Linked DNA regions of Homo sapiens. The protein of the gene in region 4 purifies or fractionates together with the protein of the main gene of each other region. This does not show direct contact. Each region holds a gene or a part of one and is shown on either strand. Other genes may lie near its edges.

Region 1 (3,500 bases), on a different chromosome or scaffold from region 4:
ACCTGAGCACCTGTGTCTGCGACCTGTGAGTGGACAGAAGAACAAGTCTGAGGTCCCAGAGGTTTCTAGGTTTGGGGGAAGGAGACAGGGAGGATGTCTTTATGACCACAGCTGAGGCTGGGTTCAAGAGGCCTGGCTCCAATCGGTCAGTTCAAGTAGCCGAGGCAGGGCTGCTGGGACTCCTCTGCTGCTGCTCACACGGAGCTCAGCCCAGACCTGCAATTAGAGCTTTGCTTCAGGAGCAGAGCTGAGAAAATGGGGAGAGTTGCTAAGCAACCAAGGGGCTGCAGCCAATGGGCACCAAGGAGGCTGTGGGTTACCTCACTGGCTCCTTGCTCGCTCATTCGTTCAGAGGAGAAGGGGCATCAATTACCTGCCAAAGCCCTTGAGACTGGCTGGGCGGGTAAACTTGGGTGTATCCAAGGACACCTCACATCACCCACACACTTGCCCTGATCTGTTTCCCTTAGTCACCAACTGTCAGAGCCCACCCAGCACTTGAGCTTCAGGCTGCCAAGAGATCTGGGATTAGGTATCCACCTTAAGCTGGAAAGCCTGGGAAGCCAGGGGATAAGTATCATAATAACTCCCAACACAATAATGAAACCAAATACTGGCAACTGCCGTTTACAGAGTATATAGGAACCATGCTAAAAGCTTCACATTCTCTTATTTAATCCTCATACCGAAACAATCTTTTATTTTTTAAAATCAACCCAATATTTTATTTAAAGTTTCAAAAGGCAGTGATTAAGCACATTATCTATGTGTGTGTGTGTATCATATACATATAAATATATGTATGTATACACACACATATATATATAGGAAACCAACTCCTTTTCAAATTTAGCCACTGAACAACTAGGCCCACTTTCTATTGCATGATTCCAGTTCTACTTCTTATGACCAGTACTAAAAGTAAACAGCCTTAATCCATTTAATAGTAACTATGTTTCTCTTTAAAAAAATGAACAGTTGGCCAGGCATGGTGGCTCATACCTGTAATCCCAGCACTTTGGGAGGCGGAGGCAGATGGATCACCTGAGGTTAGGAGTTCAAGACCAGCCTGACCAACATGGCAAAACCCCGTTTCTACTAAAAATACAAAAATTAGCTGGGCGTGGTGATGCACGCCTGTAATCCCAGCTATTCTGGAGGCTGAGGCAAGAGAATCGCTTGAACCCGGGAGGCGGAGGTTGCAGTGAGCCGAGATTGTGCCACTGCACACCAGCCTGGGTGACAGAGTGAGACTCTGTCTCAAAATAAATAAATAAACAATTACCATTAACTGATCACATAAAGTATAAAGGTAGAACATATACACACAGTTCCCATTTTAAAACATGTAACGTATCAATAACCCAAAGGTACAAATGCATGCTACTGACCATCCCAACCCTAGCAGAGACCACAAAAGAACTCCCATTACTCAAGGAGTCAAAATATTCTCTACCGAACACCAGGGGCAGGACTTGTGCACATTATCCTGTTTAAACCTTTTCAACTCTGTGGGGTTGATATGATCATCCCCATTTTATTGATGAGGAAACGGAGCCTTAGGAATGGCTGATCCAAGATTTCAGATCTAATAAGTGAACCATCTGGGATTCAAACTTAGATGTGACTAATGCCAAGGCTTGAGTCATCAGCCACTCTTCCATGAAGTCTCTTTCAATGGTTTTCCCTTCCAATTCTGCCAAAGGTCCCAAAGCCCCATCTCTGAAATGTCAGCATCAGGACCTCCAGTCTCACTTCTTCTAATCCAGCTCATACCAAAAGTCTCAGTAGGCCATTTTCTCTGCTTATAATCCTTTAATATCTTTATATCGTCTTCAGGATGAAGATCAAAATCTTAAACTTGGCCAAGGTCCTGCATGATCTGGGCCCAGGTCTCCTATACCTCTGGCCCTTAAATCTTGCTGTCTAATCACATCTAATGATTTACAGATCACCAGACCCTCTGGGCTTTCACCCTTCCCTTGCTTGGGCTGGAATGTCCTCCCCATCCATCACTTCCATCTGGCTAACTCTTACACAGCTGGGTTGTCACTTCCTCTGCGAATCCTTTCACAGCCCTCAGACTCAGTGAAAGCCTCCTCTGGGTTCTTCAAGGCCCCTGCGTTCTCCATCAGAGGATTCATCATGTTGATTGTACTTGCCACTCATGTGTCCACTAGACTGTGAGCTCCTGAGACTGAAGCTAAAGCATTTGTCTCTGTGCTCCCAGAGCTCAGCACAGGGCCCAAAACAGGACATGCTCAATGAACATTTGCCAAACACTTCACTACACTCACTTCTTTAGGGCCCTTGAATATATCATGATGCTGCCCACAAGTCTTTGCACATGCTGTGGTTCCTAAAGCCTAGAACAATCCACCTTCCTCCCCCAATCCCTTCCAGCCCCACCCCTCCCAACTCAGGCAACTCCTACTTTCCTCCATTCACAAAATATCAAATGCTACCATGTGCCGAGCACAATGCGACAAAGTAAAATGACAGAGTCCCTGTCCTCACAGAGGTGAGAGAAATCATGTTATGGGCTAAGAAGGAAAAATACTGGGAGCTCTGAGGTAATATAAGAGAGAAGATCAAACTTAGCCTTAAGAATCCATGGAGGACTTCCCTATGGAAATGAAGTTTAAGCTGAGGCAAGGTGTCAAGTATATGTAATGAGCCAGAGGCTGAAAGGAACATGGGACATTCAAGGAATTAAAGAAACTGTGTGAGCGTGTAGAGAGCAAGGAGAGTAGCATGAGATGAGGCCAGTGATGCCATACTGTGCAGCACCATTATGAGTCACATTAAGGATTCTGAGCTTTAACCTAAGAGCATTGAGAAGCCACTGAAAGCTTCTGATCAGAAAGATTAGATCCCCATTTTCAAAAGATCACTGTGGCTGCTGGGACAATGAAGGGTACAAGAGTGAGGACAAGCTCTACAGTAATCTGGGGAGAGAGATGATGACAGCTTGGACTAAGGTGGTAGCAATGGAAATGGAAAAAAATAGATTTGCAATATGGTCAGGAGGGGAACAGCCAGGACTTGGTGACTAGTTGAGAGAAGGAAAAGAGAGTCAAATATTTTAATTGAATAACTGATAATTAGTTGTTTAATGTCTGCCTCCCTGTCTGAACCATGAGGACAGGGACCATGTCTTCTTTGGTTCCTTGCTGTATCTCCAGCATAGGACCAGGTATCAGTACACATTCAATTAATGTTTATTGAACAGATGGATGGATGGATGTGTGGCTGGCCAAAGAGGTTGTCTTCTGGGTGAGTGGGTACTAGCTCACCTCTGGGCATCAGGCTGTGAGATGGCATTCACAATGGCCTCCACACTGCTGTCGAAGAGCTCCGAGTCCTGCAGAGCAGCAAAGGCAGCCTGAATGAGCGCCTCACAGTCCTGCAGCGGCACCTCCAGCTGCACCCAGCTGGAGAAACACTTGAGCACCTTCTGACGCACACAGCTGGGTGAGCTGGGCTGCTGTAGCAGCTGC
Region 2 (2,380 bases), on a different chromosome or scaffold from region 4:
GCAGGAACCTCATGCGACCTGTGACCAAGATGTCCCATCCTCAGCACAGGGCCCACTCTGCCAACCAGTCTCAAGCACCAGCCCCTCAACACTGCCATCCACCTGGCTCTGGGCCAAGCCACCAATCCAGAGCTCCCTCAGGTCCTGGGACTAAGGCGGGGACATGACTGATCCCCTCAGAGCAGGCTCAGGCCTGGAGTCGGCCCCCAAAAGTTTCACATAGGGCCAGGCAGCCTCTGTGTTTCTTTCCCTGGTCCTGAACTGTGGAAATGCCATTAAACTCTCTCTATAATGTAACTGAAACTGCTGGCTGGGCGCAGTGGCTCCCACCTGTAATCTCAGCCCTTCCCGAGGCTGAGGTGGAAGGATTGCTCGAGGCCAGGTGTTCGAGACCAGCCTGGGCAACATAGCAAGACCCTGTCTCTATTTATATTGAAAAATAAAAATAACAAAAGAAAATGCTGTGGATGATCAAAACCAGGGTGGGCAGGACCCGGTGCTCACAGGGACACACATGGATGGTCCATTCGCTTTATTGGGTGCGTGTAGTGTTGTCATGACATCTCCTAAGGAACTGGGGGGCACGTTTGACACTCATGAGGTCAGAACAGGTCTGGTGGGCGGGGGGGGGGGGGGTCCCAGGGTGGTGAATACCCACAGCACACCCCCCCACCAAAAGAGAAAACGGGGAGAGGAGCCTGGCAGGCCAGACTCTGATCCCCATGGTCCACACAGGGAAACCCCCAACAGCGGCCTCGGCCCACCGCGGCAGAGCCGAGGGGCTGGCAGGCCTGGCCACCTCCCATTGCCCGATCAGCCTGCTTTAGGGTGTCATCTGGCCCCTCTTCACAACTGACAACTGTGGATGGGGGTGAATTTTAAAAAAAGGCGGGGGGGGGGGGTTCAGGAGGGTGAGCGGTGAGTTCACGGGGCCACGAGACACCACAGCTGAGTGGGGAAAGGGCTATATGTACAGGAGGGGCAGGGCTTGGGGCGGGCAGGGGAGCCTGGGCCCCTGGGGGACATCTTCAATAAATAAATAAATAGCTACAATAATAAATAAGGGTGACGGGCTAAGTCAGGAGCAGGGGTCTTGTGCCCGTGGCTGGTAGGGGCCGGGTCAGGCCCGGGTAGTTGGGGGAAGGTGGGGAAGACAGGGAAGAGGGGAAAGGGAGTGGGATGGCTCTCAGCAGGCGCAGTCCTGGTGCGGTGGCACCTGCTGGTCACTGAGCTGTGGGCCCTGCTTGGCGCCTGTGACCGCAGGGTCCGCCGTGTCCAACGACTCGGACATCTTCTCGCAGATGACATCCACCAGGCGCTCAAAGGTCTGCTTGACGTTAATGTTGTCCTTGGCGCTTGCCTCAAAGAACTCGAACCCTGTGGTCAGAGAAGGCAGGGATGAGGACCCTGGCCACGCCCTATGCCAACTCCCAGAGATGCTTCTCTGAGGAAAGGGAACACCTGGAGATTCCCAGTGCCAAGCAACTTATTGAAGGTACTGACAAATCCCACAGAGAAGAAACTTATTGAAGGTACTGACAAATCCCACAGAGAAGCAACATGGAACTGGGTCAGCTTTGCATTTCCTGCTTTTTTTTTTTTTTTTTTTTTTTGAGACAGGGCCTTGCTCTGCTGCCCAGGATGGAGTATGGTGGCGTGATCATAGCTCACTGCAGTCTCGACCTCCTGGGCTCAAGTGATCCTCCACCCCCACCTCTCAAATTGCTGGGATTATAGGTGTGAGCCAGCGCACCTGGCCTCCTGCCCTTCCTTCCTAAAATTGTGTCTCGTTGTCCTTAGGGACCTGGCAAGACATGCCCTGCAGCGTCCAGCCCAGCCCCGTGCACTGGCCCTGGAAGGCTCTGACACTCAAATCCAGCTGTGACCTCCCCCTGCTCACACACCCTCTGTGACTCCCTATTGCCCTCCAAAGAGTCCCAGCCTCTCAGCACATGGTTGAGGCCCTCTGTGATCGGCCACATTTCCTCCAGCTGACCCTCATGTTCCAGTCTTGTGAAATTATTACCAAAACACACAGGACCTTTCTCACTGCAAGCCTTTGCCCAAGCTATTTCCTCTGCCTGAAAGACCCTTCTTCACTACCCACCACTCCAGGAAGCCTGGCTCCTCTCATGTGCTCCTCCCATCCAGGTCCCTCCCTCTACCTCAGGGGTCCCTCGAGGCACCCCTAGATGCCTCTTGAGCCCAGCAACACCCAACAAAGCGTTGGACGGTGAGTGTCAGAATAAATCCTTAAACTTTCTGCATGGCAAACTCCTACACATCCCTCAGGATCCAACTCAAATGGCTCCTGGATGAAGGCTAGTTTGCAGAAAGTGTGAATTACCTGGCTTTAGCTGTAAGACCTTGGGTGTGTGCC
Region 3 (3,500 bases), on a different chromosome or scaffold from region 4:
ACATTATCTTACGATATAATCATCTAGTGTCTCTATGTGGCAGGTCCTAGCAAGAATAATTAAGAACTCCCCTCAAGTTGCCTGCTGTTTGGTTGAGGAAACAGATAGTTGCAATGGAGTACAACACACGCTCTAACCAAGCCTGCAAGAAGTACTGAGGAGGAGCGCAGGAAGGCTTTGGAATAGAATATCCATTCTATGCCAAACAGTTAACCCCAAGAGTTCTTATCCTGCTACATTATGAAAGAAAGACTGTCACAATCTTGGCAAAAATCCCAAGAATCAGATAGGTTCTCAGAGACTCCCCAGATGCACACCTGGGTAAGAATTTGAGCCCAGTTCATAAACTGAAGCAGTTACTCATTCTATTAACCACAAGCTTCTATAAAGAAGAGGGAGAGAATTTCAGAAAAATGTAAGGGCAAGTGCAAAGGCCAGGAATGGAGTGAGCTTGGGATGTCTCCTTAATTTGGTGCAACCAGAGCAAAAAGTGTAAGTTGAAGATGATCCCAAGGCTAAGAAGTTCAGAGGGTAGGAATGAAGGCTAGATGGATCTAAATTAACAAGGGCAGAGACTCCAGGACTTCTCAGTGCCTCCCCAGACCTCTTCCTGGTTACATCCAAGCTTCTCTCTATGGGTCAGAGTAGAGACTGGATTGCTGTCCTCCAGGAAGGGAAAGGTTTGCAGTCAGCCCAAGGCCAGAGCAATCCAGTGCACCTCAGATTTCAGCATGAGATCTAAGTGCAGCCTCATCATCAAGTACCAGCCATGTGATAAGCACACACTCACATGACAACATGAGGGTCATGCAGCAGCCATGAGTGTAACTGTCATGAAACTAACACTGTTCTCTGATACCAGGCTCCAGATGAATCTCCCACTTAGGGTGGAATCAAAATAGGTACCTATATCTGCTTTCCTGCCACACTCTCCCATTCCATCCCAAGTGGCAGACCACAACCACAGCCCCAGTTGGCATAGCACTTTCAAGAAGCCAAATCCTGGTAAGAGCTGGATAAGGCTCAAGCCTATAATCCCAGCACTTTGGGAGGGCAAGGCAGGAGAATCACTTGATCCCAGGTGTTTGAGACTAGCCTGGGCAACATAGTGAGACCTGTCTCTACAAAAAATAAAAATAATTAGCCAGGCATATAGTCTCAGTTACTAGGGGGACTGAGGTGGGAGGAACCACTTGAGCCCGAGAGGATCACACCACTGCACTCCAGCCTGGGCAACAGAAGGAAACCCTGTCTCAAAACAAACAAACAAACAAACAAAAAAACAAAAAAACAAATAAATCCTGCTAAGGTCAGAGGGAGTTGATGTAGGACTCAGCCCTACAGGGTCATTTTGCATTCCCTTACCAACATTTGATAAGAATGGCAATTCAAGGCAATGCCATAGGAGTAAAGCGGAGAAGAGAGAAAACAAGAAGGAGGGGAACTTGGGAGAAGGAGACAAGATCATCTAGGATAACTCAAGCAACTTCTGCGTCATGCCTGGAAGAATATTTCTCCTAGCAGGTTTATATTCTTATTCTCATCTTAATGAGACAGGGAAGTAAAATAACTTTCTCAGGATCACACAGCAAAGGAAGCAGAATTTGAAACATGGTCTATGACTGAGCTTCCTACGTGGCAGCATCCTGCCTCCCAGAGGAGAGGCCCCTCCCTGGTGGGGAGCTACTGAGGGATTGAAGGAGCTCCCTAGAAACTCCAGGCCCCATCACCTAGATTAGGAGAAAGAAACTGCAAGCTCATTTACAATGAGACATATTTCACTTCAGTGCCCCAAACCGGAAGGGACATAGCACAGTGAGGGCTGGGAAGGGTGACTGCAGCTTTAGCACTGTCACTGATCAGGTATGTGGGCCTCCATTTATGTATCTGTAAAATGAAAAGAGAATACTAATTTCCACTGCAGAGTTGGTCTAAAGATTAAATGAATTTTTATTGCACATTTAAAACCTTGTATTCAATTTTCATTATTTGTTGAGTGCCTACTACATGTCAGGCACTAGAGACACAGGCTACTAAAACAATGGAGATACAGAGGCAAAGACAAGCAAGTTCCCTGCTCTATAGAAGCCTACATCCTAATGGGAAAGTCAGTAAGTAATTAAATGTGAAAACACATCTGAAACCAGTACGCACTATATATAAACAATTAAAACAGGGATTTGTAATAGTGACTGGGTAGCGACCATTCAGAGGAGGTGATCTTGTTTTCTTGTTTCTGATGGTTTTTTTTTTTTTCTTTTGAGTCAGGGTCTTGCTCTGTTACCCAGGCTGGAGTGTAGTGGCATGATCAGGGCTCCCTGCAGCCTTGACCCCCCAGACTCAAGCAATCTTCCTGCCTCAGCCTCCTGAGTAGCTGGGACTACAGGCACATGCCACCATGCCCAGTTAACTTTTTTATATATCTATTGTAGAGATAGGGTTGCCCTATATTGCCCATGCTGGTCTCAGACTCTTGGGCTCAATCGATCCTCCCACCTCAGCCTCCCGAAGATTACAGGTACAAGCCACCAGGCCTGGCTGTGATCTTGTATAAGTTAAAATTATTCAGGCTCAGGATCGCCTGGCAATACAAAACAAGGAAGTCTGCAATGAACTAGGATACCTTAAGAGGAAATGGGGCCTAGGAAAAAGAACCTTGAGCTTGGGGGCAGATCAGCTGAGTTCTAACTCTGGCCTTGGCAATGACTTGCTGTGTGACCAGGGACAAGTCAGACCCTCTCAAGACCTTCCACGATCTTTGGAGCTACAGCATACTGTAATTTGCTTTCCTGAGCCTTGTCCCTCCCAAAACAATACTGTCCCACAGCATTTCCTTCCCCATGTCCGGGATCCCTTCAGCAGAAGATATTAGAATAAGGAATCTATTTTCCTGTGGGGCCAGTGGTTTGGCAAATAGTGCAAAAACATTCCAGGCAGCCAGATTATGGAATGAGGAATACTCAGGGAAGCACGTCCTGGGTAGCAGAACTGCTGGATGCTCCCTCAACTACACCAGGCCTACCACCACTAGAACCCCAAAGGGGCTGCCCTAACATCCAACAGCTTCATAAAGTCATCATTACCCATCTAACACCCTGACAGAGGGAAACCATTAATAAAGGCCCAGCGCAGTGGCTCATGCCTGTAATCCCACTACTTTGGGAGGCCAAGGCGGGTGGATCACCTGAGGTCAGGAGTTCGAGACTAGCTTGGCCAACATGACGAAACCCTGTCTCTACTAAAATACAAAAAAATTAGCCAGGTGTAGTGACGTGCACCTGTAATCCCAGCTACTCGGGAGGCTGAGACAGGAGAAGCACCTGAACCCAGGAGGCAGACAGAGGTTGCAGTGAGCCGAGATTGCACCACTGCACTCCAGCCTGGGCAAGAGCAAGACTCCGTCTCAAAATAATAATAATAATAATAATAATAGCCTTATAATTATGTGTTTAAAAACACAGAGTGAAAGAAAATTCCAAAAGGCATTCCCTATCTCTAAA
Region 4 (3,500 bases):
TACAATGCGGTAGAGCATGATTAGAAAAGATAAACCTTCAAACAATAGTGTTGTCCAAGACACTACCCTCACTTATCCCAGGGGAACCCACGGAATTTCTTCATTTGTATTAACTCCTGACATGGCATGGAAGAAGAATTTTTATCAAATACCCTTGGCATCTTATATCAGATTAAAGGACCATTAAATACACTGAGGTAAAATTGGCAGAGAGTATAGTTTCTATTAATAAATCTAAGTCTATTTTGTCTGTTTTAGGCAACAAAGGCAAAATGGACTTTGTGGGAAATGTATCTCATAAAAGCCCTTTGGAAAAACTGCAGACCAAAACCAAAACCCTCCTTCATGTTTTCTCGCATGAAACATAAACTTGCCCTATTTCAAAAAGTTCCTACTGAGTATGATTGTGTGAAAGATCACACTACTTCAAATCATATTTATTTTAAAAATCTGTGATGGGACAGTGGCCTCACTGCCAGGAAGCCCAAGTTCTGTTTTATGCTCGGTACAACTAAGTGGAAGTTGATTCACTTTGTCTCAAGCTACATAAAATAATCAGAAAATCAAGAAGATCTCATGCTAGACAGGTTAGACTTGCACCCAAAAAAGCATCTTTTTTTTTAACCTGCTGTTTTGGTTTGCTGCTGAAGTCTTTGAAGAGAATTATGTATTCAAAGTAGCTCTTTGCCCATTGGCATTTCCCCATCTTCTATGTCTTCTGTAGGGCACATCCCCCCCAAAGTAAGAGGCCTTAGTAGAAAAGCACTTCCACCTGCAGTTTTCCCCTAGGTCTGCAGAGAGAAACAGTGCAGAGTGCAATGCCACAGTCAAGGACCAACTTTCCTACAGAGCCCGGGCCCCAGGGAGGGTGGTCAGCAGCGCAGCCTGCCCAGGCTGGGATCTCCCTTTGGTCATAGCCGTGTTTCCATATACCCCTCCACTCACCCTCAGAGGAGGAACGGATGGAAGCCACCAGCATAAATAAAGGGAACACAGAAGAACAATGTCACCAAAGTGCAGGTGCAAAGCCCAAAGCAGCCCCCTACCTCTGCCAGCCCAGACCCGCCACTAAATTCTAGAGGAGGGTGTCTCTCAGGTCACAGTACTTTTTTCTTCATTTCTTTTGATTTAGAAACAAATCAGCAGGGAGGACAAGGTTCTCAAGGACAAAAAAATCAAAGCTGAAACGAGAGCAGCACAATCCATTGGTGACGTTCATCTTTTTCCAGAGGAATATACCATTCTGTTAGGACTTAGGGGAAAAAAGATCTTTTAGGAGGTGCAGGGAAAACATTCAGAATTAAGACATACTGACCCACCACCACAGAAACAGCAATTAATTAAAATAGCACACAAAATGATTTTTAAAGTTTGAAATGAAACCTAACACTAGAAAGATATACACTTGATGGAGAGAGAGGAATCCTGGCTTCTGCTTCATACTGTTCTGTACTGTTGTGAATTATTTACATGTGTTTTTTGTTGGTGGTGGTTTTCTTCTTTTTTGAGACGGAGTCTTGCTCTGTTGCCCAGGCTGGAGTGCAGTGGCATGATCTTGGCTCACTGCAACCTCTGCCTCCGAAGTTCAAGCGATTCTCCCACCTCGGCTTCCTCAGTAGTAGCTGGGATTACCATGCCCAGCTAATTTTTGTATTTTTAGTAGAGATGGTATTTCACCATGTTGGCCAGACTGATCTAGAACTCCTGACCTCAGGTGATCTGCCTCCCAAACTGTTGGGATTACAGGCGTGAACCACTATGCCCAGCCACATGTGTATTTTTTTAAAAATCATAAGCCATGTGTGGTGGCTCACGCCTGTAATCCCAGCACTCTGGGAGGCTGAGGTGGGTGGATCATTTGAGGTCAGCAGTTCAAGACCAGCCTGGCCAAAAGGGTGAAACCCCATCTCTACTAAAAATCTAAAAATTAGCTGGGCGTGGTGGTGGGCGCCTGTAATCCCACCTACTCGGGAGGCTGAAGAGGGAGAACTGCTTGAACCCGGGTGGTGGAGGTTGCAGTGAGCCAAGATTGTGCCACTGCACTCCAGCCTGGACGACACAGCAAGACTCCGTCTCAAAAACAAACAAACAAAAATCATAAAAGGGGGAAAACCCTTAAAGTCAATTATCTGAAAAGGCAGTAGTCCAGAGCTAAATTGTAAAGCTAGCCTACTGGACTAGTTAGCAAAGATATTCTGAGCTCAGTGGCTCGTTCTGTAGCTAATATTGAGTTGTGCAAGAGAATCGTGTTCCCTGCAGGAAGTCTGGGAACAATTCATAGTTGGGCCACCAATGGTTCTTTGCCAATGTCCTGGCTGTTGCTATGCTGAAAGCAGAAGGAAGGGTGCATGCTGGTAGCAACGCAGTGAGAGTACAGTCTTCCTGCTTAGACAGGTTGTCTTTAGAGAGACCCTTGCTTAGCTCTGCTGCCATGGGGTGGAAGGAGGGCTTATCTGTCTGACAGAGGAATGGATTGGCTGTACTCAGGAACTCCAGCCTACGGTGCTTAAGCCAGGCTGATGTGGGGAGTTGGAGGCCTATGTGCTTCCAGGCTCGTGTTTCCAGGGAGCACAGTCTAGCACTTTACCACACAAAGTGTGGATCCAGTGGCATTTGGTTTCACCTGGGAACTTCCTAAGAATGTAGACACAGGCCAGGCACGGTGGCTTATGCCTGTAATCTCAGCACTTTGGGAGGTCGAGGCGGGCGGATCACCTGAGGTTGGGAGTTCGAGACCAGCCTGACCAACATGGAGAAACCCATCTCTACTAAAAATACAAAATTAGCTGGACGTGGTGGTGGCGCCTGTAATCCTAGCTACTCGGGAGGCTGAGGCAGAAGAATCGCTTGAACCCAGGCAGCAGAGGTTGTAGTGAGCCGAGATTGCACCATTGTACTCCAGCCTGGGCAACAAGAGCAAAACTCCATCTCCAAAAAAAAAAAAAAGAATGTAGAAATATAGGCTCCACCCCACATCTAATGAATCAGATAATGCTTTTTATCAAAATTCCCCAAGGTGATTCAAATGCCTATTAAAGTTTATGGAGCGCTGGCAGAATGCAGAAAGCTCAGGACTGGGAGACTAGGGAGTTGCTATCAGGTCCTGAGTTTGCCACTAACTTGCAGTAGAAACTTAGCGGAAAAAAAAAAAAAAGAGTGTTTCTGCGTGGGCCTATTTCCTCATCTGTGAAGGGAGGTAGCTGCTGTAGAGTATTCCAAGGTCTCTGCTAGCTCTAACGTCACAGATATGTGTATCTAGATGTTTCTAGTTTGTTGTCTAAAAAGGGCGAATGCAACAGCAACAGCAACCGCATCCCCAGAATCAGCCACTGCTGCTTCATGGCAAATGCAAGCCCACTACTGGGTCCATCTGACGTTGCCTATCCCTCCTATCCCTCCCATGGACCTGGCTCCTCCTTCCTTACCTTCTGGTCCAAACGTTGGTAGTCACTGGCCTTTGGCCGCCGGGTGACTTTAGATCTTTTTCCTTCCAGGACAAA

The links. Proteins that work in one complex are often made in the same cells at the same time.
Region 1: the proteins of TGOLN2 (region 4) and IPO13 purify together in Homo sapiens (affinity purification with mass spectrometry; 4 studies listed by BioGRID and IntAct, with this or other methods). This does not show direct contact.
Region 2: the proteins of TGOLN2 (region 4) and RAB3A purify together in Homo sapiens (affinity purification with mass spectrometry; 3 studies listed by BioGRID and IntAct, with this or other methods). This does not show direct contact.
Region 3: the proteins of TGOLN2 (region 4) and INTS4 purify together in Homo sapiens (affinity purification with mass spectrometry; 4 studies listed by BioGRID and IntAct, with this or other methods). This does not show direct contact.

What each region holds. Positions count from the first base shown.
Region 1 is NC_000001.11:43,949,950-43,953,449, reverse strand, and holds part of IPO13 (importin-13), read right to left. Parts: coding exon 3,297-3,500; intron 1-3,296. UniProt on the Homo sapiens protein: Functions in nuclear protein import as nuclear transport receptor. Serves as receptor for nuclear localization signals (NLS) in cargo substrates.
Region 2 is NC_000019.10:18,196,284-18,198,663, forward strand, and holds the end of RAB3A (ras-related protein Rab-3A), read right to left. Parts: intron 1,378-2,380; coding exon 1,187-1,377; 3' UTR 501-1,186; downstream 1-500. UniProt on the Homo sapiens protein: The small GTPases Rab are key regulators of intracellular membrane trafficking, from the formation of transport vesicles to their fusion with membranes.
Region 3 is NC_000011.10:77,879,669-77,883,168, forward strand, and holds part of INTS4 (integrator complex subunit 4), read right to left. Parts: intron 1-3,500. UniProt on the Homo sapiens protein: Component of the integrator complex, a multiprotein complex that terminates RNA polymerase II (Pol II) transcription in the promoter-proximal region of genes.
Region 4 is NC_000002.12:85,321,490-85,324,989, forward strand, and holds part of TGOLN2 (trans-Golgi network integral membrane protein 2 isoform 1 precursor), read right to left. Parts: coding exon 3,426-3,500; intron 1,311-3,425; coding exon of another isoform or gene 1,253-1,310; coding exon 1,247-1,252; coding exon of another isoform or gene 1,216-1,246; 3' UTR 1-1,215. UniProt on the Homo sapiens protein: May be involved in regulating membrane traffic to and from trans-Golgi network.